Homo sapiens: one gene and its partner. The protein of the gene in region 1 purifies or fractionates together with the protein of each later gene. This does not show direct contact. Each region holds a gene or a part of one and is shown on either strand. Other genes may lie near its edges. The genes, in order: CER1 and NGLY1.

Evidence for each region.
Region 2: the proteins of CER1 (region 1) and NGLY1 purify together in Homo sapiens (co-immunoprecipitation; 2 studies listed by BioGRID and IntAct, with this or other methods). This does not show direct contact.

The regions. Positions count from the first base shown.
Region 1 is NC_000009.12:14,715,460-14,731,436, forward strand, and holds CER1 (cerberus precursor), read right to left. Parts: upstream 7,275-15,977; 5' UTR 7,214-7,274; coding exon 6,707-7,213; intron 4,928-6,706; coding exon 4,631-4,927; 3' UTR 4,265-4,630; downstream 1-4,264. UniProt on the Homo sapiens protein: Cytokine that may play a role in anterior neural induction and somite formation during embryogenesis in part through a BMP-inhibitory mechanism. Can regulate Nodal signaling during gastrulation as well as the formation and patterning of the primitive streak.
Region 2 is NC_000003.12:25,727,039-25,742,274, forward strand, and holds part of NGLY1 (peptide-N(4)-(N-acetyl-beta-glucosaminyl)asparagine amidase), read right to left. Parts: intron 12,762-15,236; coding exon 12,539-12,761; intron 10,418-12,538; coding exon 10,296-10,417; intron 9,363-10,295; coding exon of another isoform or gene 9,271-9,362; intron 9,112-9,270; coding exon 8,966-9,111; intron 6,945-8,965; coding exon 6,834-6,944; intron 5,446-6,833; coding exon 5,281-5,445; intron 2,281-5,280; coding exon 2,095-2,280; intron 1-2,094. UniProt on the Homo sapiens protein: Specifically deglycosylates the denatured form of N-linked glycoproteins in the cytoplasm and assists their proteasome-mediated degradation. Cleaves the beta-aspartyl-glucosamine (GlcNAc) of the glycan and the amide side chain of Asn, converting Asn to Asp.

The DNA of each region.
Region 1 (15,977 bases):
GATTAGTATTAGGTCTTTAACTTTGATTTGTATGTATCTATATGCGTGTCTATATTTATATGTGCGTATATTTGCATACATATGTATACATAAATATTTATATTATATATATATTTCCATATTTGCTATCTTGAGACAATATAACTTAGTAAGAAAGAGCTTAGGCTTTGGAGTCATTCAGCTTCTCCTATTCCCTAACAGTGATACTTTGGAAAGTTTATTTATATGAGCCTTAGCATCTTTATCTATAAATATTCCTCATAAGGTTTCATGAGGATTAAATAAAATGATGTATAGAAAGTGTTTGGCACAGTGCCTGACACATGACATAACCTCAGTAGATGATACCTATTGATATTGTTTCTTTCATACAGACAAAAAATATTTATTGAGTACCTACTGTGTGCTGGCCCCTTCCAGACACTGATTACAATCCTGAAAGAAACCTCCTGCAATATGATACCTGTTTTCATGGACCTTATAATTTAATTAATGATGGCCAGAATAAAGATATAATTACAAGCTGATATGAGTGCTATAAAACAAAGGTTTCAGTGTCATGAAATCATGTTAGACGTGAACCCAAACTTGTCTGAGGGTTAAAGAAGGCTTCACTGGGATAGTGGTGTTTGAGACTGGGGGTAGGGTGTGATGGAGAGATCATCATTCTAGAATATATGGAAGAGTAAACAAGTAGCAAAAACATGCAGTTACTTGTTCCTGGACAGTAGGATTCTTAAAGTCAGGGATTATATTTAGATAATCCTCTACTCATTTATTCATATTCTTTGTCCCCAGCACAGTGACCAGGCTCATCATAGACATTCATAACTATTTGTGGACTGAATGAATGAACCCCTCCAACTCTCATTCTCCTTGTCAAAAAAAATGAGTAGAAAATATCCACTTCTAGGAGATAACAAATATAAAGCATCTGAGCACATAGTAAGAACTCAATAATTAGTAGTCCTTATAAATGTACTATTATCATTGCCTTAAAATTTGCATACATTATCTCTGCTACTACATTGTAAGCTCCAGCGTGGCAGGAAATGTGTCTTATTTATCTTGGAATATCCCAAGGTTCTTAGCACAGTGTCTTGCATAGAATAAATTAAATTATCTGTAAAAATTCAGAGGATAAATAAAAGTCTTATTTAGGAATTAAACTGACAGGTCAAAGAAATTGCGCAGATTGAGAAAATCAAAGCTAGGTTAGCTACTCTCTGTAAGGAATACTTAATTTCTAGAATGGAGATAAAATATAGATGGGAAAAAAACCTCTCAAAACTTTGTAAAAACAAACAAGAATTATGTGTGGTGAAAAATGCCATTATAGAACAATTAATAGAGAATATCATGTACATAATTCAAAACACATAGCTTTAATGTCACCGTCTCAGAGACCACTTAATCTAATCAATCTCTAGCATATTTTAATTATTTGCATACCACTTATAGCCATCTGATATTTTTCTTTTTGAATTGATTGATTGATGAATTGATTGATTTTCAAATTACATATCTCCCCCAATAGAATGTAAGCTCTATAGGAGCAGTGATCTTGTCTGACTTGTTCCCTTTTTGTATTCATGGCACCTAGAGCTGTATCTCGTACATAGTTGATGGACAAATAAATACATGCTGACTAAAGTAGTGCATATAAAAAATAATACTACATATTGTTTATGGAAGTATATATAAATTAGCAAAAATATAGAAGGGAATTGAAAGTATAAGCAGGAATTTTTAGTGGTGTGGTGTTTTGTAGGCAAAAGCTTAGGGAATAAGACTCAGTATTGTGGTCAGAAGGAACTTTACTTATATCTGAAATGGCTTATTTAAAAGAAGACTAGAAGCAAAAGATGACAAAATAGTAACTATTTATTTCGTTTATATGAATTTCAGTGTTATATTATTATTTGCGCTTTTCCGTGTGTTTTCAATTTCTCAAAACAAATTTAAAAAATAGAAGGTCTGAACGGAAAAGAATAAATTAATCCCTTGTAGTTTTACAGGATCTAAAGTTCTCTGAAGTGTTGTTATGTACACTTGATCATCACAATAATTTTGAGGTAATTATTACCAGCCTTATTTTATATGAGAGGAAAATGAGACCAGGATTTATGAAGAGGTGTGCCATGAGGACCAACGGAGTCAAGGAAATATTTGGCCGATAACCTGACCTAGAGATGATTTCTCTTTTGAGATATAACATCAAAATCCTTCAGATAGGAGAGCTAGGTAAGTGGTAAAAAGAAATTTGCTTTGAAGCCTATAGGCAAGAGACCTGGAAGAGTTCAATATAAACTGACAAAGAACAAATGAGCAAATATTTTAATCCAAAATAGAAAATATTCTCCAAATGCTCTTAGGCAAATTCTGAAACTTTTAAAGGCTTGCTTTTCTTACCCATAAAATACAGTGATAACCTACTTTATATAGTTTTTGTGAGGATTAAATTGTTAACTTCTTGTAAAAGACAGCACAGTATCTGGCACTTAATAAATGTTCAATATTTGTGTTTTTCCTCTTGGTTTCTTACAGTCTTACATATTATGTTCAACCTTTGTAAATTGCCTTTTTTGTAAGTAAAAATGATTGAATATGAGCAATTTTGTTGAATTTCATGCAATTATTCTATAAATGTAAGGTTTGATACCACTATCAACTATCCCATCTAGAATTTACATGCAAGGGAAGCGCAGACCAAAATTTGAATAAAACAGATCATTGTTTGGGGTTTGGGCTTGAGAGTCTATTTGCAAGGATGGATGAAACGGATTTACAAGCATGTAAGGAGGAGAAGGACAGTCCAATTGGCAGAGATAGGTTTTCATAATCAGGGTTAGGCGATTGCAATCATGACAGCTGTTTGATAGCTTTTGGCACCAAAATATATTGACCAGCTGAGATATCATTAATGCTTAACAATTTTATCCTTATGAGCATATCTTGGCCAGCTAGGTTGCCTTTGACCACCAAAGGGTATGATAATATATTCCAATGTAAATGCCATGTGTGCATCTGTGTAACTCACATTCATGTTGATGTGTTACAAAATATACACTAAATATAAATGCCTTTGCTTCTTTGGAATGTCATGTTAGATGGTGTGATTAAAGAGGAATAGAATTAAAATATAAATTGATTTATTTAAAAAAAACAGTTATTCTGGGAAATGTGTGTATGTGTGTGCACTAAAAGTAAAAGAAACCTAATTATTAAAATAATTTTTAGGAACAAAAATTTGAATAACTTAATAGAAAAAGCAGTCTGGCTGGGAAAAGGCAGTTCTGTACCATATATGTGTAAAAATTAACACAGACAGGAGAGAGGTGATTGAGAGACTTAAACAGAAGGCTGCTTACAGATCAGAAGAAACCCTTGGTCCAGTGTCATAAGTCTATGAAGACATTCCAGAAATGCTTCCAGCTAGGTTATCTCCTGATAGTACCTTTAAATTATGAGACAAAACAAGTAAGGGAAAAATATAAGAACATTTTTCAGAATGCTTCATATACTAAAATTTAATGCATTAAAATATCCAGAATATTTTCAGAACCTGTAATTTTGGTACTTGCTGAATAAAATTTATAATACAAAGTTTTATTAAATAGCAAAAAACAGTCATTCAAACATAGAAACCTTACTACCTAATTCAAAATGCATGTGAGTAAATAATTTTGCCTGAAGATTGAATTTTTGGGGGTTACTTTCATTAGCATCTCTGGATTGATCTCTAAACCTGGTAGTAGTCATGTATTTTTCCTTCCTCATAATATAGGTACTTGTTTGGCTACCAGTGATTGTTCCTCTTCCCTATATAAACTACTAAAATTAACATCACTGTTCCTTCTTCAAAGTCAGAGACCTGACATTAAGTACTTTATATGAGGAGTATTGTTAAAAAGGAGGCAACCAAGCAAGTTACTCCTTACATCTGTGGAAAGACTTAATCATCAGATAGAAGTCAAGTAAAACACTGTTTGGGTTGCAAAAGTAACTATAAGTATGAGAATCTTTCCTACAAATATTTCACGTAGCCTGCCTCCCTGCCTGCCTGCGTGCCTGCCTGCCTGCCTGCCTGCCTGCCTGCCTGCCTTCCTTCCTTCCTTCCTTCCTTCCTTCCTTCCTTCCTTCCTTCCTTCCTTCCTTCTTTCCTTCCTTCCTTCCTTCCTTCCTCCCTCTCTATCTTGCTTCTTTGCTTGCTGGTGATTTGACACACATTAAAGAAGCCCATTTTTATGGTCTCGCTTATTTCTTTTCCTTCTTTAGATGGAGGGCTTTTACCCAAACTTGGAGAAAATGCATCACGGAATATTAGTAGTGGAAAGGATTTTAGCAATCATCTAGGTCGGGTCCGTCATTTATAGATGAAAATCTTTAGATGGAGAAAGGTTTTACAACTTAACATTCTACGGCTAGTTAGTGGCAGAGCTGAGACAAGGTCTCAAACGTGTACCAATAACTAGACTAATATCATTTCCTCTATCGTTCTAATTTAAAACTACGTTTCAAGTCACCTTTCCCTGAAAATGTTATGTACCCACTTAACATTTTCAGACTGAATAATCAGCATCTTTGCTGTTGTGGTTTTGCTTTTCAAAGGTAATAGTGGGATAGCTCTTCAAGCTGAAACTCCTGGGATAAAGGAATCCTGGGAGCCAGCATGTAGGATGTGTCCATCTTCATGCTCCGTCTTCACCTTGCACTGGCACTCCTCCACCAGCATCACCACCTTGATCACGGAGGAAAGTTCAGTGCAGTTCAGTGGCAAGTGCATCGTGGTGAACTTGGCAGGCAAACAGTGAGAGCAGGAGGTATGGGAGTGCTGCGCGGCTCCAGGAAAATGAACAGACCCGCATTTCCCAAAGCAAAGGTTGTTCTGAACAACTACTTTTTCACAGCCTTCGTGGGTTATAGTCTAAAAAGCAAACACATTTCCATTACGTTATTTTGAATTATTTCTTTAACACACATAATGCAGAAGCTATGGACTGTAAATCTGAGGATAATTTAAAAATTTCAAAGCTTTCCAATTTTGGATACAATTTGCAATATGCAAGTGATGGTATCTATAAGGGCACAGAACCACCTCAATTAAATTTTCTTTATTGAGTAAATTATTAAACAGCCTTTAGGGAATCCCTAAGTTAACATAAAAAATATTTTACTCTACATTATTCGTGCAAAACCTTAAGCAATTTTGTCTAATTGGATGTGAGCGATTGAAAAATTCTAATGGTAATTATCTTACATAAGTAATGTGCCTTACTTTTTTATTCCTCACAGGGCTTTGTGCATAGTAGGCTCCCAATACATATTTGTTACATTGATCGTAGAATAGATCAGAACATTCTAGGTTTAATTCTATCCTATTCTGCAAGACCTGTAGTACATTCAAGTCTATGAAGTTGTATGCAAGCAGAGTTACAATGCATATGCCTGCAAATCATTGTATATTACATCACCTTTACCTCTCATAACTCCAAGCACCTAGCTTTATATGCCTTTCAAAATATGTAAGAGTCAAACATCTTAGTTTTAATTTAATTAGCAATAGAATTCAAAAGAAGAATTTCAAAAGAAATTTGATTGCCTGATTCTTAGGGGTAATTTTCTAATTGCACATGGCCAACAGAGTAGTCATTATTATTTGATAATTGACTTGCCATTGCTACATATCCTTGCCTTTTCAGGCAGAATACTTAACTGCCTTGAACAGTCAATTGCCCTATTCTATTGCTTGCTTAATTGGGTAGCATTACTCGACTATAAAATTTTACTCTACCCTGCATGTTTTTGGTTCAATATCTTCATGTTTAAGGACCTAATGCAAGTTCTCAATTTTAATTTAACATTTGGAATGTAGATATTGCCAGAGGAAGTAGACAGTAGGATGTCCCTTTGTCTTAATAGCATGGAATTGATCATAATAACTACAAATCAGCCAACACAACATGAATCAGGAGAAAGGTACTTCTAAGGGGAGGAGATATGATCTCACATCAAGATTGATTTTTTAAAAAGCTCATATGAGAAAATAAGTGAAAGAAAATCACTTTTTTGCTATCATAATACTAGAAATGATATGACAACTTTTGCCTGAGAACCTCAACGTACTTTGAGGTTGTGGGATAGCTTTAGCAAGCTATTAAAGAAGTCCCTCATAAACCTATAAAGTAATTAAGTATGGACTATGGGGATTAAGACCATCGTAAATGGATATGAGAGTATTTGGGAAGGAGTCCAATGCACCCCACTTTATCAACAAATGGAGTTGACCTGCTCATCCACATATTAATAGAGTGCAGAAAGATAGCTACAGAGGAGTTCTGGTGATTACTCTAAATTCTCAGTTTCCTAACTGAGGGTACAGTCTGACTTATATCTCTGAGTAGATCACCTCCAATGCAAAAATAAATAAATAAAACAGAGCTCTGTGTCTTCAGTGTGAATGAATGATTACTGATATTGACAGTATCATCATATCATTCTTGCAGCATTTCCACAATGCCAAGAAAAAATGGAAAGGCCAGAAGGAAACTTAATCTTTGCCAAATCCTATGATGAATGCCCAAGGACCAAATCTGTAGTTAAGCTAGAGTCAGGCTCCTGACAGCCTTTTCCCCTACTCTCCATCCATCCCAGCTGTCCACTACCACCTGCAAACTCTTACCTGCTCTCCCCCCAGAACACATACCTGGCTGAAGGGCACTGTCCTGCAGGTCTCCCAATGTACTTCATGGCTTTTGATGGGCAAGATGACCCCCTGAGAAGCCGGAGTTTTTCTGAACATGAAGTGGTGCCAGAATTTCTTGGCTTCTTCCCGAAGAGGAGATTTCTCCATTTTCATTCCATCTATCGGCTGGATGAGGGACTGGGTCCCAGGTGGGAAGGGCTCACTATCTGAGTCCCTGGATGGATGCATTTCTCTCTCAGGCTTCTTCCAGAACCTGCCAAATCTGGACAGCATCTTCTCTCTCTGCCTCTGGCCTTCCCCTGCAGGGCTGGTGGCTACAAGGTGTGGCACTGCGACAAACAGATCTGGCTTCTCCTCAGCTTCCTCATGGTTGCCTGTGGGAAGCTCTCTTTGATTCCTTGGCAGGAGTACGGGGGAAAGAGAACTCTGATTCTGGCGGCCATCCTGGTGCCGTGTGGTCTTTCCTAGAGGCAGGAGTACCAGCAGCTGAAATAAGAGGAGATGCATGCTGTCAGGGGCCCAAGCTTCTTTTGTAAATGATGAGGCCCAAAGGAGAGGCTCATTCTCTGCAGGACTGGGAAAAAGGAAATCGTATATATAGATACCTGCCTGGCGGGATGGGAAGGCAGGTGGTCAGTAGCCAGGCAGAATAAACACATTTATTGTTTGCTTGAATTATGTAGTGCTAATGGCCTCCTGCCGTCACTTTGGTTTTGTGTATTTTAAAAGGCCCCAGTGAAAGCCTGGGACCCAGGGGGTAATTAGCTAAGAGTTTAGCTATGTCTGGGGCTTAAAGAGCAGTATTAGCAAAGACAACACATTCTTTGCCTAAATTTCCCATGGCTGTTTTCAGAAGAAGGACTAGAGTCAGCTCACATTTGCTGTGCATCTGCCTTGTGCTGGAATAGAATAGACAAGACATGTTGCTGTAAGAGAAGTTTTTGGATAAAAATTAAAGGCATACATTTAGAAAAAGCCCAGGCCTTTAGGAAGGCTATTCACACACACACACACACACACACACACACACACACACACACACACACGAAGAAGTATATCAAAGTTGTAAGGAGAAGAAAGGAAGAGCTAGAAGGATGTTAATTTTTTTGAGCAAGGGACATATTGTTTCTTACTTACATGCAAATTGGGGTTATTGATTTTTGCACAGTAACTGAGTAAAGGGAATATGTTTTCCTTTCCACACGTAGAAACTCACAATTCCCAAGTTAATCCTCTCACATTAAGAATCAATTAATGGGTGCTAAATTTCACAACTGGTCAGTCATCAGATAAACTCTTCCAATTGTTCACATGTTCCTCAACAGGATACCACGTAATAGACTGACAGCTCATCAGTCTTCAATGAGGATAGGGAAATGTCTCCCTCCAGCCATCCTATTGATTTTTTTTTCCCTTTGAACAAAGAGCCAGACATGAGAACGTGGATTCTAAGAACCAGGTTTGATAACTTTGTGTGTGACGCTGGCTAGTCAGTTTCTTACCTTATTGAATCCACATCATCTCCCCTTGTTTTACACTAATTGATGGCCAGGCTAAATAAAGATTGACACAAATAAGAGTCTTCGGGGATCAAAGGAAAAATTGAAAAATAACTATCATTCAAAACTATCATGAATCAGCCTAGGATACGAAAAAGAAACACGTCCAGAAAACTGAAACCCCAGAATAGAGTCCGATCAGCCTACCACATGATTCAAACAGTATTTCCACTGGGAAGCAATGCAATATCTGCTTTTATTTCTCCCCTTTTAATTCAATCACTATATTCCTTGCTTTCAATAACACAAATAGTCCTGGAACATGTTCCCCCTTTTTTGTCAATACTGATTAAACTTTCTTTCCAAGAAGTGACCCACTGGAGTCTGTTTTCCAGGCATTTCTGTTCTTCTTGATAGCCATGCCTGATTTCTATGAAATAAAGCCTTAAGTAAGTCCCTTTACCCATGATAATGAGCTATTTTTAACATGGACCATCACTTTACCAGAATGCCATGAGTGGAGATATATTGTACTTGTACCAAATATCTATGGAACGTGTGCTAGTATTAATGAAAGGTGCTGTTGATATATAATAAATAAGCATGTGTATTTGCCATTGTTTTTTTTTATTTTAGGAAAAGGGTTCTGCTCTGTTGCCCAGTCTGGAGTGCAGTGGTGCAATCATAGCACTCTGTAACCTCAAACTCCTAGGCTCAAGCAAGCCTCCTGAGTAGCTGGGACTACAGGCACACTACCACACCTGGCTATTTAAAATTTTGTGTTGTTGTTGAAACAGAGCCTCACTCTGTTGCCCAAGCTGCTCTGAAACTCTTAGCCTTGAGCCACCATCTTGCCTCTGCCTCCCAAAGTGCTGGGATTACAGGCGTGAGCCACCATGCTATGTCAACATCTTTTTTTTTTTAATTGACTGCTACTTGAATTTCTTAATTCCCCTCAGCCATCCAATGCTATACGCTTTCCAGAGCTAGTCACTAGGCCTCCTGGTATAATATGGTGTGGAAGCCAGCTGTGATACCTTTCCTGAATCCTTTTAACTGTTACTTTTCAGTAACTGAAATTCCATTGTTATCAATCAGAGTATCTACTATTTCCCAAAACTAAAGACAATCTCAGAAATTCTATCTCGGGTCTCAGTTTGCTTGGCTCTGGAATTACTGAACATGAGATACAGTTGAGATAATTCCTGTTGAACTGCAATGTGTAGAAGACTCACTTTGTGTGTTAAGAATCATATTAGATACTGGTAGATAATTGAAAAATGAGTAAAACTTTGTCCCTGCCCTCAAGTAGGTTAGATAGTCTAGTGGGATTTCTTATGCATCATCTAACTTTATTGTATAAAATCATCTATAGGGATGTCAGTTATCCATTTTTCACTTTCCTTTAGTCCTAAACTTCCCTTCCTCTGATCCTAATTTGGGGCTTATAAGTGCCATTTAAAAATCACTCACAGAGAATATCCTTTTGCTGTTCTGTCACTTCTTTTGAGAAAATGTGCAAATATCTTGAAATATTCTCCCTACTCCCATTAGTAAATACTATCCGTGAAAAGTAAATCTAGCAAAGCCAAGCCTTCTGTGATGAGAACTATGAAACAAGCCTATCTCCAACCTCTGCCTTTTTCAGCTAAAGGCAATGACTATCACCTTTCACTATCGTGTCCATTCACCAATTCTAAAGCCATTGATACACTGTGTGTGTATAATTATGTGTGTATAATTATGTATGTATAACATGTAATATATGTATAATGTAATACATTATAATCTCTTAAGAAAATAAGTGAAGATTTTGTAGCTTTCAGCAAAAATATGCTGCCTCTGTTGGTCTTCAGTTGATACAGGCATCTAGTTACCTCCCAATTTGGATGAACCAAATGGAAATGGAAGTAGGTCTGCAGGAGGTCTCCAGACCCAGTAGGAAGCTTTCATGAGGAGACAGCATCGCCAATTATTAGTGCACTTAGTACCAAATGCCACAGTGAAGGGTGAGCCTGAGTTCATGTGAGTGAGCCCAAGCCTCCTAAGTCCACTTCCTGGGCCAACCCTAGACATGCATGAGAACCAGAGGGGCCAATCCCAGAATCCATTCATTTCCATTTACAGTTCAGGCTTTCAGCAGAATCTGACTGTTTTCAACTTGACTTGGGTTTCTTAGGCACTAAGATGTCTTCAGGAACTCTAAAGACCTCGAGAAGATACTTAAATAAAAAATGTTTTCATATGCTGGTGACACTTTTATAAAATGGACAAGAAAAGAGGCCCATGAGACCCAGCCGCTCAAGACACGTTGAGGTGGTTTGTCTCCTTTTCAGACCTCCCCAGTGTGCCTATGAGAGGACAGCAACAGCTACATTTTCTGTCCCTCTTACAGACTCTCAGAAGACAGTTAAAAAGAAGCCCAGTGCTCTCCAAGGGCGAACAGAGAGACTAAGTTCTTCCCTAAAAACCTATCTTAAATCAACAAAAGGTGAGAGGCAGTGTTGAGGTGGGGGGTGGACATTACAGTTAAACAGGACAACTGAGAGCTGGAAAAGGACATTTGGGTTGAAGGATTCAGGAGAGAAATCTGACTGGGGAGCATGCCACTGCCTCATCACTACCTCTCTTTTCAAAATACAGAATAGCAATCATGTCATGGCAGGTTAGATTATTTTTTTTTTAACTCAGAAGAAAACAGGACCTTTTTTCTTATTTTCCAAGGAACAAGGAAAAGGGAAAATTAGGATATATGATTTCCCCTTAAACTTTTAAATAAACAATTTACTTAATTATTCAAAATGTACACTCCCTCCTCCCCTTTCCATGGAAAAGACACGTGAGGAAGAGCCCCATTCCCTGAAGCTGCTCCTTTAACTGGACTAATTCTTTCATTCTTACAGCGCACACCTGAGTGCCAGCTCTGTTCTAGGAACTGGAGATAAGTGTTGAGAGTGTCTTTGTTCAGTTTCAGGTCTAGTGGATTTTGCAATCTATAGGGACAGCCTAGTATATTCAAAATAAGTTTTACAGGGAAAATTTAGGCCAGGCATGGTGGCTCATGCCTGTAATCCCAGCACTTTGGGAGGCGAAGGTGGGCAGATCACCTGAGGTCCAGAGTTCGAGACCAGCCTGGCTAACATGGTGAAATCCTGTCTCCACTAAAAATACAAAAATTAGCTGGGCATGGTGGCTGGTGCCTGTAATCCCAGCTGCTTTGGAGCCTGAGGCAGGAGAATTGCTTGAACTTGGGAAGTGGAGGTTGCAGTGAGCCAAGATCATGCCACTGCACTCTAGCCTGGGCGACAAAGGGAGACTTCATCTCAAAAAAAAAAAAAGAAAGAAAGAAAGAAACAAAATTTAGGCAGGCATCATTCCTGTACTAATCAGGGACTTTCAAGTAGAGCCAAATCCCAAAGATGCAGTGAACTGTATGCTTTATTTGTGCTAATTTTATTCAATAATAAATATTTGTTGAATTCAAGGAAGCACTGTAGACATGGTGCAGTACATTTCTTTTATTTTTGAGTAGGTAATAAATACGCATAGTAACAAAATTCAAATAACACACAAAAAAATGCACAACGAAAGGTTGATCTTCCTCTGACTCCACCCCAGGCTGCCTGTCCTTGCCATGGAGAGAACCATTATTATCAGTTTCTTTATTCAATCTTTTAAAACTGTCACCCAAAGATACCAAAATGTGTGACCAGTGGAAAAGGACAAATATCAAATGGTGTAACTGCCAACAAAAAAATCCCCATTTCCACTTCAAGGCACTGATGGTTAGATTGTCTTTTAAAGATTAGATTATTCTGTTTGTAGTTTCGGTGATCTCACTGCCCTCTGTTCAAAACACCCTCCAACACCATTGAGAAATAGTTTTCTGTATTCTGGGTATTTTGTTTTTTGCATCTGAAGATGTATCTACTACTGTGCACAAGTCATGGACAATATCTACATGTGTCTAATCATCTCCCTACCAAGACTGCAGAGAGGGCTCCTGCAAATCTGAGAATTAGGCCAAGGCAGCCTGAGCTGTCCCTCACCATGTGCCCCACCTTCCTACCTGTCCATCCATCTCCAATGCCTGTGCCTATACTTAGAGCCAGTTCAGGATGCAGTCACTGATGCAACATCTCTGTCCTGCTCCTTCTTCCTCATCTTTAAAATTTACCTTGTCTGTTTTTCCTTCTGTAGAAAGCTGATCTCAGAGCTAAGTAATGTCAGTGGAACTATCTCTGGACTTGAGGCCAAAAAAACTAAATCTGATTCCTCGAACTGCATTACAGCTTGTAAACTCTATGGCATCAGGCACTTAACTTTATGTCCCTGAATGTCTGTAGAGGCAATATTACTTGCCCTGTCTTCCTCATTTAGTCCACGGTCCTTCTTTTCACCCTGAATCTTACTATCATCCTGGGTGACTTCAGTGTCCATGTGGTTGGGTTTGACCATTAGCATTTCATCAGTATCCCATGGAAGTCCCATTCGATACCCTGGCTGAAATCTGACTGCTCTCATGCCAATTGGCCTCCCTACCCCGATTACATTCTGACCCCTGTTACTATCAAGAACAGCTCTACCTCTAAACTGTGAATTCACATTCCACTCTCTCATAACAATATTGTGTTGTTTCAGTTCCTACAGCATCTGTCCCGTACTTTATCTCTATCATAGTACTACCACCTTTGTCATGAAATAATTTTTGACTGAACATTTAACATCTGCCTCCACTTAAGATTTTTTTTTTTTTTTTTTTGAGACAGAGTCTCGCTCTGTTGCCCAGGCTGGAGTGCAGCGGTGCAATCTCGGCTCACTGCAAGCTCCGCCTCCAGGATTCACGCCATTCGCCTGCCTCAGCCTCCCGAGTAGTTGGGACTACAGGCGCCTGCCACCACGCCCGGCTAATTTTTTTGTATTTTTAGTAGAGACGAGGTTGCACCGTGTTAGCCAGGATGGTCTTGATCTCCTGACCTTGTGATCTACCCGTCTTGGCCTCCCAAAGTGCTGGGATCACAGGCGTGAGCCACCGCGCCCGGCCCAGATTTTAAAGTCCATAAAAGTGGGGTCTTTTTAGTCATCAGCTCAGGCTGTAGCACAGCCTTTCACATAGTAAATGCCCTAAAATATTCATGTAATAATAAATGAATAATGTAATTAATTGATTAACATATATAAATTCTTTGTCTTCATTTTCTTCCCTATCCCACTTTAATTCCATGGTCCATCACTTCAAACTTTTGCAATATTTTCCCTAGTCCCTTTTTTATTCTCTCACACACATCTAATAAAAGTCCAACACTGGGCCCGGACGTGGTGACTCACGCCTGTCATCCCAGCACTTTGGGAGACCGAGGGAGGCGGATCACCTGAGTTCAGGACTTCGAGACCAGCCTGGCCAACATGGTGAAACCCTGTCTCTACTAAAAATACAAAAATTAGCCAGGCACAGTGGAGCCCGCCTGTAATCCTGGCCACTTGGGAGGGTGAGGCATGAGAATCGCTTGAGCCCAGGAGGCTGAGGCTGCAGTGAGCCGAGATTGTGCCACTGCACTCCAGCCTGTGCGACAGGGCGAGAGTCTTTCTAAAACAACAACAACAACAAAAAGTCCAACCCTGAAAACACCCAGCTGTTCATCTTAACTGGGCCCACGCCTGGGATAGGGAGTGCTTTTAGAGACACAGACAAAATGGGCAAAAATGGATTCTATACAAATTTCCTTCTGTCTCAACGGAACCCTCAACTCTGCTCACCAATCCTTCTCATTCCTCTATTCAACTCACTTTTCATTTTCCATGTGGGTTAGTGAAAATCTTCTCTAATTACCTAAAACCTTTGACTGCTCTGCCTCTTTCCTCGTTTTTGATAGATGACCCCTTTTTCTGCAGAGAAAGATAGAACCCATCAGATAAGTGAGTCTCCTTACATTTGACCATCAAACCACACCAGTTCGTTTCTCCTTTCCACACTGCTGTTGGAATCACATCCTTTCCAACCACTTTACTCCATAGTCTACCCTGAATGGTCAAACTTTTGCACTCCACTGGATGCTTTTATATAATGTTTGATCATTTCAAATTTTCTTGATTCCATAGAAGTTTTCAGGTTCTGTACTTCAGTGTTGTCTTCTGCGTTTTCCAGTCAAATATTGGCAAGCTTTCTCCCAATCCAACCTCTACTTTCTCACATCCACTTCTGGATTTACAAGGGAGACATCTCCTCCATGTCACTGAGATGTATTTGGGACTCTGAAAAGCCAAGTTCCTTCTTGATTCGGCTATTCGGTGATTCCTCGGGCTTGTCTTAATTTGGGTACATGCATATCTTTCTAACAAGGAAGAGAGGATCCTCAAGGGCAGGGATTATGTTTGCTGGAGACTACATTGTCAGCAACTTTGAGAAAAGGGATTTTGTTTAATGCATTTTTCTGTTTCTTTTCCATTCCTGGTCCCTCAGTCTACATTTAGGAGGTGAATGGATGTTTGTTTTGACATACTGAGTCCAATAAAAATGCGAAAGGAAACTTCTGACATAGGCCCTTGTTGTGTTTTACTTTCTAAGAAGTATCGCTTTGTCCTGGATAACTTATACTTAATTCTCTGTGTTTAGATTCTATTTTAAAATCAAATTTCCATGGAATCTGGGACTAAACCATTCTTCATTTCCCAGCCTGGCCACAGTCTCAGAGCAGGCCTTAGAACATTGTCACACCAGCCACAGTTCCCAGGCATGTCTCCCCTGAAGGATAATCACACTCCTAAAAAAGGTAATTCATGCCAGAGGACTATATGTCTGTTGGGTAACTTTATGCAGCTTGTAAATTGTTTTACTCCAGTTGGAGCATGGGGGTGGTGTATCACCAACAGAAATGAGTGTAGGGGGCATCTGTCTGAAAACTGTTCCCCCACTGGCCACCTTGCCAGTTTCTGCTTATACAATGCAGGCAGCTTGGGGGAACCATATTGTCCCTATAAGCTCATAACACATGGACAAATGATTAAAAACACATGGAAAACAGTTCCACAGCTAAGCTAAAATTCAGATGGGAATGGAAAATCAACTTGCAAAGCTTTCAACTGACTCAGGGCCAAATGTAGGACAGAATGTGAGGAGAAGTTGCCAAAAGAGAGGAAAGTTGGGGAAAAAAGCAAGTCATGGATAGGAAACCTAAAACAATGACGCCTTGTATTGACAACGCTTCTCTAAGGCTCTCCAAGAGTAGTACCAAATTCAACTCTTCGGAAATATTAAGACCTTCACTTCATGAAAGAGTTTAGACAGATTTATATTTTCTACCCTCTATACACAAGAGTTGGCTTGACTATCTTGGCAACACCTAGGCAGAAACATAATCTTAAGTATCTTAAGTAACATAAATATTAAAAGATTACACATTTTTCCTCCGAGGTGTGGGAATTAAGTAACAAGGTGGCATGAGGCAAACTGTGAAAAATTGTGACAATAAAATGAAAAGCAAAGCACAATTTTCCGGTCAGGGTTTGCCTTCTGTTGTACCTGATGCTGGGCCCAGGTTTGCCATCAAGCTGGCAGGCCTTAGTCACATTCGCAAAAGTTCAACTTGGTTCAAATCTTAAACTCTAAGAAGCCTGTTATTTGTGTCTAGTCACTAAAATCACCTCAGTGATTCTACTGGGTAGGAAATCTATAAGCAAGAAAATAATTTACTGGGAGCCAGTCCCTGCTGGGCCATTCTGTGTAGCTTCTGCCCTGAATCCTTACTGACTCCCACATACGCTGAACCACCTTT
Region 2 (15,236 bases), on another chromosome or scaffold:
CGGTAGTGAGAAATAGGTTTACTATTCAACAGAGCTAGAAAATCCCTAACTGGGGGCATGCTAGTACAGAACCAGAAATACTGATTTAGATGGAATACTTAAGTTATAACGACAATTGTTACTTCCGAGTTATCACTCTCTACAAGTAAAGATTCTAGTATTTTTCTTCATTTGATACTAAATACATGTAGCTAGAAAGAAATTCACTCAACTTAAAAAAAATGGTACCCTTCATAAAAGTATATCAAGGCATAAGCTTTACTTGAATAGGGGTGTGTTTTCTATTTAATGGCCTTTGTCTATCATTTACATTATTTAAATCTTTCTCACACTATAGCCCCTCTCTGGCTAAAATGTTCTATTTGGAGATCTTGAAATACGCCACGTACTCCATGCCTTTTTGTTTCCTTGCCTGATAAACACCTACTCAACCTCCAGTGTCCAGCTCAAATGTCGTCTGCTCAGTGGAGCTTTGCCCAACTCCTACAGCCAAAGCTAATTACTCCCACCTCACTGTTTCCATAGCAATGTGTTGATATCCTTATTATAGCACTCTGCATCATGGTTAAGATGGCGGTTTATGCTTTGGCTTCCCCTTTTAGATCGTGAGGTCAGGAATCATCTTTTTGTTTACGTAGCTGAGAATAATGCCTGGCACAACAGTACAAGTTTGCTGATGAACAAATGAGTGTATAAGACAAAGAAGAAATACTCCATACAGTAGTTCTGTTTCTTGGCATATCACATCTTCTGTAACACATCACTATTTTCCCCATCATTACTACTTTACTAACATTGCTGGTTAGGAGGAAACACATGATTTTTCTCCATTTTAGCAAGTATAGACTAGTCATTCGATAAAAAACCCTTTTATTCTATCTTGCTTTCTGTTCAGAGAAATTCTTAGGCTAAGGATAGTCTTCTAGAAGATGTTCATCCTCTCTCATCAACTGTACAACTAATTACAGGTATCTCGAAATTTTAAATTTTATCTCTATTTTTATGCATTTCTTTAGCTAAAGAAGAAAATTCCAAAATTTAGAATAATCCTGTAAGTTACTAATACAAAAATACCTCAACTTTTTTAGTATTAGACAATGTGATATAAATGGAGTATTTCTATGTTTAAGCAGCAAGATAAGTTTTTGAACAAAAACTTATGATTGAAAAAGAGAAAAGCAGAGACCTTATCTCTGTATGTTTTTGGTAATTTGATTAATGCCTAGTACAGTGACAGCATGTAACAGATGCTCATAAACACTAGCAGCTGTTTATATGTGACTCACTTTTTTAATCTATCCAATATATTTTACAAGTGAACAAGTTCCCACTCAAGTATCTTGGTAAATTAACTTTAAAAGCTTCCTATAAGTTAATTAATTCCTATGAAAATCTATCAAGAATATGATCAGATCTACTGAGGTCATGTGAATAGCTTTAAGTTTATTTTGGTGTGTTTCTAAGGAGCAGGCAGTTTTAAAGCAAAGCCTCTTATTTGTTACTGATAGCATGTGACGATAATATGCAACTTGGTATAAATGAACTGCTATAGTCCTAACCTCTACTTAATTATTTTTTTAAGATACAGAGAAGAAATAACCAATATTGCTGCTCAATCATCCACATTCTTTGAAGTGAATGCCTGTTAGATGTTTAGCTTTCTGAAACTTTGAACTAAATCTATTATACTCCCTAAATAGCCTGTATTTAATGGGCAATCAATACACATCTGTGAAGGAATTAATTCACAATATAATGTATTTATATATACAGTATCAAATAGAATATATATGTATATATGTTCATGCAAAAATCAGTCATATGGATTGATCATACATTTGATTATTTTTTCCCATGAAAGAATTAAATTCATCCTCTTTGATGAAAACAGATACTTCCTTGATATAAATGCAAGAATTTCTAGTGGACTTTTGATTACATATTGGGGACAGAATTTTCTTTTCCAGGTTATAGGATTACTGAAAATAAGTTTGATATATCAGTTTTCATATTTTACACAACTGAAAAATGAAGCCAATCTATATTTGTTTAAACAATGACAAAAGTTTTAAATGGTTTTATGCATTAAGTTACCATGTGCCAGTCTGTTTCAACTTTTCTGAATATAGATTCCATTTTCCACACGCCATTCTCCCATCCAGAAATGGTTTGATTGTTATTTGAAACTCGAACATAACGATCTTTCACAATATTGTAACAAAGGTGGAGCTGTTTAGAAATCTTCTCATTTTCACAGGGAATAAACAAGGTTTCTTTTCTCTTAAAAAGAAAGCAGAATTAGTTTTTCAACATTATGAAAGATGTAAAAAAGAAAAAAGAGAAATTACTAAGCAGAGTGGTAAGAGAATCCTTCAAAATTGAAAAGAAAAAATTAGTGCCATTGGAAAATTTGGAAATTATTTTATAAATTAAATATAATCAGTATGATGTTATTATAACTCTAAACATTACTAGAGAGAAAAACAAGAAGTATGAGCTCTGACTTATATTTTTGTGATTTTGCATTCAATGAATTCATTAATTTTTATTCTTTTCTACCACCACCACTATCCCCCTACTTGGACTTCTACAATTGTCTCCTGAAGCTGACTCCCAGCTTTCAACTCTTACCTCTCCTATCCATGCTCCACATAGCAATGAAAATGACTTTTCAAAAAATGTAAACTAGGATATGTCACTTTCCTGCTTAACTCACTTCAGTGACTTAAACTCCAAGCTCTTTACCACGGCTACCAGGGCCTTATGTGATGGTTCACCCTGCTTGCTTCTCCAGCCAGATCTTCTGTTACTCTTCCCTTTCATTTCTACACTCACATCACATTACTTTTCCTTTAGTTCCTCAAAAAGGTCCAGCTCATTTTGCCTCACGGCTTTGACACATGCTGCTTACTTTGTCTAGGATGCTGTTTTCTACTCTCCACATACTGGATTCTTTCTCATCCTGAGTCCTCAACCATTTCCTCAGTGTCCTTTCCTAGTTCCCTAAGCTAGGAGAGCAGCTGAGAGGTATAGCATGAAACAGTCTTCTGCATGTGTAAAATTATTACAAAAGCTTGTATTTTAACCTTAAAATCCCAGGCAATCTTTGCATTCTAGTCCAAAATAACATTAATATTTTATAAAATATTTTAATTCTAAGATTAAAATAAAACTTTTCTTTCTGGAAATGATAGTACCAATGTTTCTTCTGTTTCCAATTGATTGCAAGATTAATTCCAAAAGTATTTAGGATTAATGTTTTTCTATTTACTTTTAAAACAAACATCCATTTCTAAAGGAAAAAATGATTTCTTTTTAAATCCATGGCCCTAAAATGGTCTCCAGCAATTAAGAAACTTAAAAAAAATTTCAAAAGGGAAAACAATGTGGTATGCAACCCAATTCATATTTTTAAAGTTAATCAACTTCCATGCCATGCAAGAGATAGCACACCCATGCATAAAAAGAAATGAAGACCTAAATAATATCCATGTTTTAAATTGAACACAGCTGCGAATTAAATTAGCTCTTTTTAACTGGCTGTATTTAGATTTATACTTGTAACACACTGCATTGGCAGTGATTTGAATTATTTGTTGAATTTGGATCTTGTAATCCTATGGCTGAACCAACACTTTTAACTGCCCGCTACAGACGATGGGATAAATTAAAAAGCAAACATAAAATTTATTAGTGATAATTCACTCCTTTAAAACATATTCTGTTACTAGAGAAATGAACTGTAACAATGGCAAATTTAGAAAAAGTAGATAAATACAACTTTAATTTGTTTGGAACTGCTTGATACTGATATTGTGATGAGTTATTTTTCTTTCAAGCATTTTTCATTGCATATTTCCTAAACATTTTATTAAATGCTCTCCAGTGACTCAACTTTAGCTCCCTAAGGGCAAAGGACAGTCTATTATACTGCCCTAATGCCTGTTACAAAGCCTAGCACACTGATTTTTACCTAGTCCCTTAACTTTAGGACCTACCTATGGAAATTATATTTCCATTGTTATTTAATTTTGGAAGATTAATCATGTGGTATCTTAAAATAAATTTTAATATAACAGTAATCATGCCACCAACAATTTCTAGCCAATATCAGATATATGCAAGCATATACCAAGAAATAAACACTTTCATCAGCTGAATTCCCCAAATTCTGTATTTTCTCCACTCCATAAAGTTTTCATCTGGAGAGGAAAAACGTAAAACAGCATTCTTTTAAATGCATTAGAATCTCATTTTAAAAGACCTAAATAAGCACTTCACAAAAGAGAATGAGGATATCCAAAAGTTTAAAGAACAGGCATTCACCATAATTAGTCATCACCAAAATGCAAATTAAAATCACGATACTACTATACGCCACCAGAACTGCTAAAATGAAAAGATAGACAATACCAAGTGTACACAAAGATGTCGAAAAACTTCATATACTGCTGGTGAGAGTATAAGCTGGCATAACCATTTTGAAAAACTGTTTGGCAATATGTACTAAAGCTGAATATACTCATACTCTATTACCTAGCAATTCCACTCCTAGGTATACATCCAACAAAATGCCTAAACATATTCACTGAAAACGTGAATATAAATGTTCAGAGCAGCACCATTTATATCAGCCAAAACTAGAAATAACCCAAATAGCCATCAACAGTGAAAAATTACATTCATACAATAAATTATACAGCAATGAGAACATACCATACACGTTGCAACATGTATCTCACTGACACAAAGTTACACAAAACAAGCTATATACAAAACAGTACATGCTATATGATTCCATTTTATAAAGCACAATAACAGGCAAAACTAATATATGATGTTAGAAGCCAGAATAATGATTACTTTCGAGGGTGTAAGGCAGTGGGGAAAGAAACTCACGCTTGTTTCTACGGTTCCAGTGATCTATTTCTTATTCTGGTTGGCGATTACATGGGTGTTAAATTTGTAAACATTCATTAAGCTGTACATTTATAATTTGTGCATTTTCCTGTATATTCTTCAGTAAAAGTTACACTGCACTAAAAATTTACATAAGGTAAAAAAAATTTTAAGTCCCATTTTAAAAATGCTTTGCTAACTCTTACACGATAATGCTATGTAAATCAATTACTGGTTCTCTTCAAATGTTTGCATTTTAAAATAATTACTCTCAAGTTAACTGAAAGGTCATAGTCAATGCAGTTGGAGGATAGTATAGGAAGAGCATAGTATATGAAGCAGGAAAGTAAAAGGATCATCATGCTAGAATGAATTAAATACCTGTAGACCCATTTCACCTCGGGCTACTCTCCAAGCCACTGACCCAGATATTCTTCCCCCAAGTTCTCCAGGTTTAGGGGTTTTGGGAGATATAAATTCAACAAGCTCCACAATTATCCTCTGGAGAAGTTCTTTCCTTCTGTTTTCTGACAAAAACAGTTGCCTCTGTAATTCATGTTTTTTAAAAAAGTTGTTAAGATTAGGGGAATGTATAGGTCCATCTCTAAGCAAGAATATACTTAAAACACTTGCATTTTAAGAGGTCTTGAAACAAGTACTGAATTTTATTTTCAAACATATATTATTCAGAAAATAAAAAGGACACTGTGGAAAACTTAAATAATTTTATAAATTTTATGTTGGGAAATCATTTAACACCTATTTCCAACTCTCCATGAGCTCTACTGTCCTAGATTTATTTATAATGAAGGTAGCAACTTCTGTTTCTGGATATGATAGACTGGCTTGTGTCAGAATGTCTTACTGAGAAAAGCTAGAAAAGCTAGTGGAAACACACAAACAGAACACTCACATATAAACACCTGTTTGAGTGCAACAGAAAGCTGTAAAGGCAGCCAGAACTTGAGAAGTCAAGATTCCAAGAGAAGAAAAGAATTGAGGTGAAGGGCACATACTGCACCTCTTTTCCCTTCCAGTCATTTGTCAATTATTAAGTGGCATGAGAAGAGGCTGAGAAGCCAAGGACAAAATAGTGACTAAAGTGCTGGAAATCAAAGCAGAATTTTTAGCAGAATCACAGTGCTGGGGTAAAAATAAACTGAGGGTCAGAGTGTTCTAATGCAAGGGGATCTAGCAAATAATCCAGGTTTTCAGGTAGAGATCTCCGAAGGGCTACACATCAGGAGTAAGTGCAGATTCAAAATAGACTGAAACCTCACCTGGAATCATTATCACTGATTGGATTAATGTGCTCTGCCCTGTTCTAACTGCCTGCTACAGCAAAATTCACTGCTTATTTTTTAATTTATGAAAAAAACCCACATGTATAGAGTTAAAAATTTCAATACTATCAAAGGGGTATAAAACAAAAATTGAACCTTTCATCTTGGAACTCCAGTTCCTCCTCTCAGAAGTAGTCATTGTTAATAACTTCCTGTGCCTTGCTTCAGAAATTTCCTCACATGGACGTGTGTGTGTGTGTGTGTGTGTGTGTGTGTGTGTGTGTGTGTGTGTGTGTATGTACATACATAATACATAAATATGAGTCTGTGTCATATCCAAGGCACAGTTACACTGATAAATAAGACAACACATTTTTTGTCAGGTACTACCAATACTGAAATTTTGTTTCAAAGAACTTTGAAATGAGACAGTTTAATCCAAAATAACTCATAATATTTAAAATGAGTCCGCAAAATTTTCAATGAACAAAAAGAATATTTTTATTCTTTAATATTCAAAAAGAATATTAAAATATTCTTGTTTATAAAACAATGCTACTACTTTAAGAATTTCAATAGGCTAATAAACGGCTATTCTCGATTACATAAAAAATGTCAACTGTTCTTTCAAAAAAGATAGCCACACCATACCTGCTTATTAAGCCCATTAATAGTGTCTCGAAGTAATGCTTCTTTAACCTTAGTTCTTCTGGCAATCACCTCTTCATGTTTGCAGGAATATCGCCAAGTGACATCAACTACCTGAAACAAATAACAGAATACAAATACTTAACAAGATTACAACCATCAACCTTTACTTACTAAATACCTAGAATGTATGTAATTTTTAAATGCATTTTTTTGGAGACGAAGTCTCGCTCTGTTGTCCAGGCTAGAGTGCAGTGGCGTGATCTCAGCTCACTGCAGTCTCACTTCCCAGGGTCAAGAGATTCTCGTATCTCAGCCTCCTGAGTAGCTGGGACTATAGGCATGCACCATCACGCCTGGCTGATTTTTGTATTGTTTTAAGTAGAGATGGGGTTTCACCATGTTGGCTAGGCTGGTCTCGAACTCCTGACCTCAGGTGATCCACCCACCTTGGCCTCCCAAAGTGCTGGGATTATAAGCATGAGCCACCACGCCCAGCCTTAAATGCAATTTTTAGAATACTATCCTTTGTTTAAAATTTAAAAGTCATGGGGCCTGGTGCAGTGGCTCATGCCTGTAATCTCAGCACTTTGGGAGGCTGAGGTGAGCAGATCACCTGAGGTCAGGAGTTGGAGACCAGCCTGGCCAACATGGTGAAACCCCGTCTCTACTGAAAAAAAACAAACAAAAAAAATTAGCCAGGTGTGGTGGCATGTGCTTGTAATCCCAGTTACTCAGGAGGCTGAGGCAGGAGAATCGCTTGAACTTGGGAGGCAGAGGTTGCAGTGAGCTGGGATCATGCAACTGCACTCCAGCCTGGGCAAGAGGGTGAGACTGTCTCGAAAAATTAAAATAAAATAAAATAAAACGTAAAAGCCTATAAAATAAACGGAAGAGAATACGTCACTTATTCATTCCTAAACAGTTGATAGTTTAACCAGAAACGCTATGATAAAAAAGTGAAAATTTCAAAACATTACCTTTTTAAAATTTATCTGCAAAGCTGATTCCACAAAATTCAACAAATAAAAATTTTATCCATTTTTATTGTATTAGATTTATATTACAGAACTGATTTTTGATACAAGTGGAAAGACAATTCAATGGAGAAAAAATAATCTTTTCAATAAATGGTGCTAGAACAATTCATTATCCATATGTAAAAAAAAACTTCATACACCTTGGATCATATAAAAAAATTAACTCAAAATGGATTGCAGACATAAGCATAAAACCAAAAAAAACTTCTAAAACAAAACATAGGAGAAAATCATTGTGACCAAGGGCTAGGCAAAATTTCTTAAATATAACATCAAAAAGCACAATCCATAAAACAACCAATTGGTAAACTGAACGCCAGTTTCTTCTCTTCAAAAATCATTAAGAGCATAAAAAGACAAACTACAGATAGGGAGAAAAATCTTTGCAAAGCACATATCTGATAATGGACTTATATAAGAATATATAAAGAACTCTCAAAACCAAACAGTAAGAAAACACAATACCCAATTAAAAAAAATAAGCAAAGGGGACATATGGATGGTAAGCAAACACATAAAAAGATGCTCAGTATTATTTGTCATTAGGGAAGTACAAATAAAAACCATAATGAAATGCCACTACACACCTATTAAAGGGGATAAAATTAAAAAGTCAGATCATACTAAATGTTAGCAAGGACATGGAGAAACTGGAAACTTACATACTGCTTGCGAAAATGTAAAATGGCACAACCACGTTGGAAAATAGTTTAGTGGTTTCTTAAAAAGTTGTATGTATATCTACCATATAATGCAGCCATTCTACTCCTAGGCATTAAGCAAAGAGAAAAGGCAGCATATGCCCATATAAAGACTTGTGTGCCTGAGTGTTCATGGCAGCTTAATTTGAAATTGTGAAAAAAACTGGGAACTACCCAAATAGCCATCAACAGGTGAAATGGTAAACTATGGCACATCCATACAATGAATACTGATTTGCAGTGATGATTTCAGTGTATACAAATAAAACTTATCAAACTGTACAATTTAAATATATGCAGGTTATTGTATGTTAATTATACATTCATGAAGCTGTCATAAAAGAAAAAAATATATTTTACTTTTGGAAAAAAGTTTTTTTCTTTTATGCTCTACCTCATCTTTTGAAAATGCTATGACATAGGAAAGCTTCTTGCCCCATCCTATTTCATAAAGGAGTGGCTTGTCACAGACATCTTCACATGCATCACAGTGCAGCCACCGCTGCTGAGAAGGAGAATAGACTTCTGTCCAGACATGGTCTACTCAAGTAAGAGAAAAGAGAGCAATGGAAAAAAGACAATGAAATCAGAATGACTTTCAATAACTATACACAAACTCCTAAGAATCATAAAGTAATGCATAATATTCTGAATTTCAGTTAATAAGTGCATTTTGTGGCACACAGGATTTTAGAATACCTGTATTAATTTCTGTCTCTTTGAAATCCTTAAAAATGTTTTTCCAATCTCCTTTAACGTGGTCAGTTTTAGGCTTAATGTGCGCTGTAACTCTTAAGAAGGTAGACATATTAAAGAGCAGCATAAAAAATATCATCCTGAGTTTACTATCATGAAGGAGTTAATGCCACTTTTGAAACTACAGTCTCTCTCTCTGGACTTTAAGGCCCAGAACCAGCAGGAAGTCTAATAGAATCTCTGGTCAATACATGCTTTATATTTGATTTTAAGAGAACACTAACTATTAATGGAAGGTTTCATTTAATTCTTTAGAAAATGGAAACACAAGGAAAACAACTTTTTAACATGTAGACCACACAAGTTATTTCTAAATAGGGACAACACAAATATCACATGACTTTTATTATTTCTGTATACTGTGCTTTAAGTTTATAGTTTACTAAATTTTTTACAGTAATCCCTATAGCAATGAAGATTTCTATGGTACATTATTACATGTTTTTATCCATATATAAACAGCATCACTATAAATGCCACGGTAAATTGCTAATAAAAGAAACAAGACCTAGTGTTTGATAGATCAATAGGGTGTTTACAGTTTACAATAATCCACTGCATATTTCATAATAGCTAGAAGAGAGTAATTCAAATGTTTCCAGCATAAAGACAAATATTTAAGATCTCAGACATCCCAATAATACTGATTTGCTCTGTAGAATTTATATAAATGCATTACAAGTATCCCCCAAATATGTACATCTATTATGCATCAATAAAAAAATAAAGGGGAAAAAAAGGAATATTTATAGTGCAAAGCACCAGGCACAGTGCTAGGTGTTTTACAAAACTCTTGTGATCCCTTCAAAAAACCTGGAAGGTTGGTATTATTACTGTTTTACACAAGGCAAATGGAAGGTCAGACTGACAAGGCCAAAAAGTAACAGAGAATCATGGGCTCAGAATGTAAACCCAAACCTGCAAGCCTGCAAAGCCCTACTACCCTCTGCTCATTCCACATTCTGTACCTGTGTAATCCCAAACATAGCGAGCTTCAAACCCTACAGCTCGGCAGCACAGTGTAAAACAATTGGCCCACTCGCCACACCGTCCACATCTTGTTTCCAAAAGTTTCTCAGGGTTATTATATCTGGTTTAAAAAGAAAAAAAACCTTAATTATCAAAATCAAGATTTTTAAGAGAATTTACATTACCTCTATGCTAAACAGAAATGTTTAATTTTTTTTTTTTTTTTGAGACGGAGTCTTGCTCTGTCACCCAGGCTGGAGTGCAGTGGCGCAATCTCGGCTCACTGCAACCTCCGCCTCCCAGGTTCAAGTGATTCTCCTGCCTCAGCCTCCAGAGTATCTGTGACTACAGGTGCATGCCACCAGGTCTGGCTAATTTTGTTTGTATTTTCAGTAGAGACGGGGTTTCACCATGTTAGCCAGGATGGTCTCGATCTCCTGACCTCGTGATTCGCCCGCCTCAGCCTCCCAAAGTGCTGAGATTACAGGTGTGAGCCACTGCGCCCGGCCTTTAATTTGTTTTTAAATATTTATTTAGAAATCTAGAATATATGAGGCACAATGTTAGAACATTTGGTGAAAAATAATTAAACGGTAGTACTGCTTTCAAGGTGTTCACAATCCTGAGGAAAGGGATGAACACAAATAATTTAAATATATGGCAGAATGTGATCAAACAATACAACAGGTCAGATTAGTGATCAAACAATACAACAGGTCAGAAAGTGGCTGGTGAGGAGAGCTTTTATTTGATCTGTGTTTTGAATAATGTAAGATTTGGAGAAGCAAATTCTCTAGGCAATTTGCCTAAAGCATTAGCACTAAAGTGGTATAGCTAGCTCACTGTATTTAAAAGGTAAACAACTTTAACAAATTACTCAACAAAAATTTTAGCTTAGTTTAATTCAATTTTATCTAAAATATTATCTTTCTTTCTAATAATCATTTTGATTAAAATTTTACTCTTTTGAAGTATTTAAAGGTGCCTGCTAATTTGGAAGTTGTTTTTTGGGATCTATTTGTAACATTCTTTTCAGAAGTTACTCCAATTATAAAATTACCAGACAATTCAAGAACACTAAATTTTGCATTTTGTGTTGAGATGGGTTTTGAACTGATAGAGCTGAGCAGGAAAAGTGCTGCAGCTGAGCAGAGAGGTCAGCCACGTGCTTTGGAAGGAAAGGAAACAGTGGCATAAATGAATGGGCTCTGCGATGACAAGTCTGTTAAGCAAATGCTTAACCAAGCATTTCTTAAGCTAAATAAATGAATTTATAACTTAGGTAATTAAATTTTTTTTTTTTTTGAGACAAAGTCTCAAGTCTCACTCTGTCGCCCAGGCTGGAGCGCAGTGGCACAATCTTGGATCACTGCAACCTCTGCCTCCCAGGTTCAAGCAATCCTCCTGCCTCAGCCTCCCCATATAGAGAAGAGCTAGAGGTTAAAACAAGCACATGATTAGAAACTATGTCCTAAGCTAAAAAAAATTAGATATTTTTAAAACGTGGTATCTTTCCTTGACTGATAATACAACCAGACTTTATAAACATTGCCAATTCAGAAAATCTGAAAACAGGCTTATAAATTAAAGAATGGAAATTAATTTAAAATTTAAAATGTCCTTAGTTTAAAATTTAGAGATATGAGGAGTAGGTTAGGTTGGGCAGGGGAAGCACCTAACTAAAACAAACTTCTGCTAATAAGACTGATAATAATAATGCTGATTATTGTGAGAGTGAATACAATTATGTGTTTAAAATAATCATCCGATGATAATATGGAAGGTAAAAGTATACCTCAGCATTATTATAAGTATTGTTAGCTATCAGACAGTTAAAAATTAGGAATTAAAAAAGTAATACAAGATTTATAGCATTAAACATGTTATGACTATACTCAAGTTATACTTTAGAACAAGAGTCAACAAATTTCCTATAAAAGACAGATGGTGAATATTTCAGACTTTGTGGGTCATATCATTTCTGTCACCATTATTCAACTCTGCTTGTTGCAGCATAAAAACAGACCATAAGCAAATAAATCAGCATGGTTATGTTCTAATAAAACTTTACTTACAAAAACAGGATGTCGGCTGGATTTAGCCTGCCAGCCACGGTTTGCTCACCGGTATTTTAGAGGAATATATTTCTGATAATTAAATATTAAAAAGTTCATTTAGTAAAAACTCTCTTCTAACTATTTCATTAAGAGATTATTCTGATTTTACCATCCAGGGCACCCACCTTGGGAATCGATTGCTGAACTGGCAGGCATCACAGTAATGATCTTCCACTTCCTTTGCACCCCACTTCAGCTCATCATCACTGGGCAGTAATGATCTATCTCTAGACCTAGTCTGTCCACCACATTTGCTGCACAAAACGTTATTCACCCAGTGAAAAAATTCTTCCTTAAACCAGTGCAAAAGCTCCAGCAAAAGAAAATCCTCATCACTTATATTGATACCTGAGAAATTAAGGGAGGACCAAGTAAGAGCTAAAACTGACAAAATTTAAACTATCCAAACATATTTATTCTCAAATACGAACCTGAAAAATATGAAAACATAAGATGATTTTAAGGTTTTCACTAATAAGAGGCAAGAAGAAACTGTCATTTATTAGGCACTAGGCTGAAATACAATGACAAGTATAACTGCACATTAAAAACAGTAGAACATTTACCATTTTATATCCTCTAACTGACATTATGCATTAACAAGTGAGCTGAACACAATGACCTCTTAGGGAACTATAGTCAGTTAGGAATTGATCCTGAAGTACAAGGGAGGTAGAAAAATAAATTTGATTTTGAAAAACATTTAAAAATGGGAAACATTGAATTTGTTATCAGGTATATACACAAGTAAACATGAAACAATCACAAAAGGCAGAAATCACAGAATTCCAGACATTTAAAAAATCATCCTATTAGCCTTTCTATTAGGGCTTCAACTGTACAATATAATCCATCCATGGATACTCATCCCCAAACACATAAAAACACAACCATATCTCTAGTATATATAACAACCCTAGTAAGTTATAACATGACAGATAATATACCCACTTTTCCATAAACAGATCTCTCTTGTTCATATTCAAGACCATGGTATCTCTGGCAAGAAGGGAAGGAGAGGGAAAATCAATCTTAAAAACATATATAGGGGGTTCTCATCTCTATCTTTAATGTTTTATGATTAAAACAGAGTGATAATAAAACATAAATATGAAGGACATATATAGCATAATGATAAAATCTAATAAAGCTTGATGTTGGTCATAGGTATATGATATATTATACTTTGTTCTTGTATTTATGTTTGATGTATTTCAAAATAAAAAACTACAGAAAAAAAAACTACAGAGAATGTAAAAAGGCCAGAAATATTTATGTTCCTGGAGGGAAAACTCAATATTTCTAAAGCTGATAACCTTCCACAAATTAATCTATAATTTAATATAATCCCAATTAAAATTATAAAATATTTTTTCATAAAATTTGACAAGCTAGCCAGGTGTGGCGGCTCACAGCTCTAATCCCAGCACTTTGGGAGGCCAAGGTAGGCAGATCATCTGAGGTCAGGAGTTCGAGACCAGCCTGGCCAACATGGTGAAACTTCGTCTCTACTAAAAACTACAAAAATTTTCTGGGTTTGGTGGTAGGTGCCTGTGATCCCAGCTACTTGGGAGGCTGAGGCGGGAGAATCACCTGAACCTGGGATGCAGAGGTTGCAGTGAGCCAAGATCATGCCATTGCACTCCAGCCTGAGTGACAGAGCGAAACTCTGTCTCATTAAAAAAAAAAAAAAAAAAAAAATTGACAAGCTAACTACAAAATCCCATGTGAAAGAGAAAATGCACAAAATAGCCAACACAACTTTGAGCAAGAATCATAAGGTAAATTTGCCTACCGTGTATCAAGACATATTATAAAACTCTAATATTTAAAACAATGTGGTATTAGTGAAGAATAAACAGATCAATGAAACAAAAGAATTCTGAAAGACAGATTTCTAAGCAAATGCACAGTATTTAATAAAGTTAGCATTTTAAAGCAGCTCTAACAGGATGGACTGTTTCAATAAATGATATTAGGACAAATAGCTATCTATCAGATCCCTACTATAGTTCATTAAAAAAAAACTTTCTCTGGAATAATATAAAATAATAGAAGTTTATAGGTGAGTATGTTTATGTTTATGACTTTGGGTTAGGAAGGTCTTAGGCAAGCAAGATACAAACTGTAAAATCAATAATAAAAAAATTAAATTTTCTTATGTTAAAAATAAAAACTTTTGAATTTCAAAAGCTACACTAAAGAACTCTGGGAGGAAAAATTTGTAACATGTCTAACAAAGAAAAGATAAATTTCTGGACGGGCACGGTGGCTCACGCCTATAATCCCAGCACTTTAGGAGGCTGAGGTGGGAGGATCACTTGAGGTCAGGAGTTGGAGAACAGCCTGCCCAACATGGTGAAACCCCGTCTCTACTAAAAATACAAAAGAAAAAAAAAATTAGCCGGGCGTGGTGGCAGGTACCTGTAATCCCAGCTACTCAGGAAGCTGAGGCAGGAGAATCACTTGAACCTGGGAGGCGGAGGTTGCAGTGAGCCGAGATCGCGCCACTGCACTCCAATCTGGGCGACAACAGCAAAACTCTGTCTCAAAAAGATAAATTTCTAAATACATAAAGAACTTCTATAAATCAGTAAGAACATTAAGAAACCCACTAGAAAAATTCACAAAGTCCATAAAAGAAATTCAATACTTTCATTAAGTGGAAACAAATATTCTTAGACACTTCTAGTATAAATTGGAAGGCAATTTGGCAGGATCCATTATAATATAAAAGTATTACACACACTTGACATTTCAGTATCTATCCAAGAGAAATACTTGTGCATGTGTGCCAGGAGACATGGTTTACAAGAATCTCCA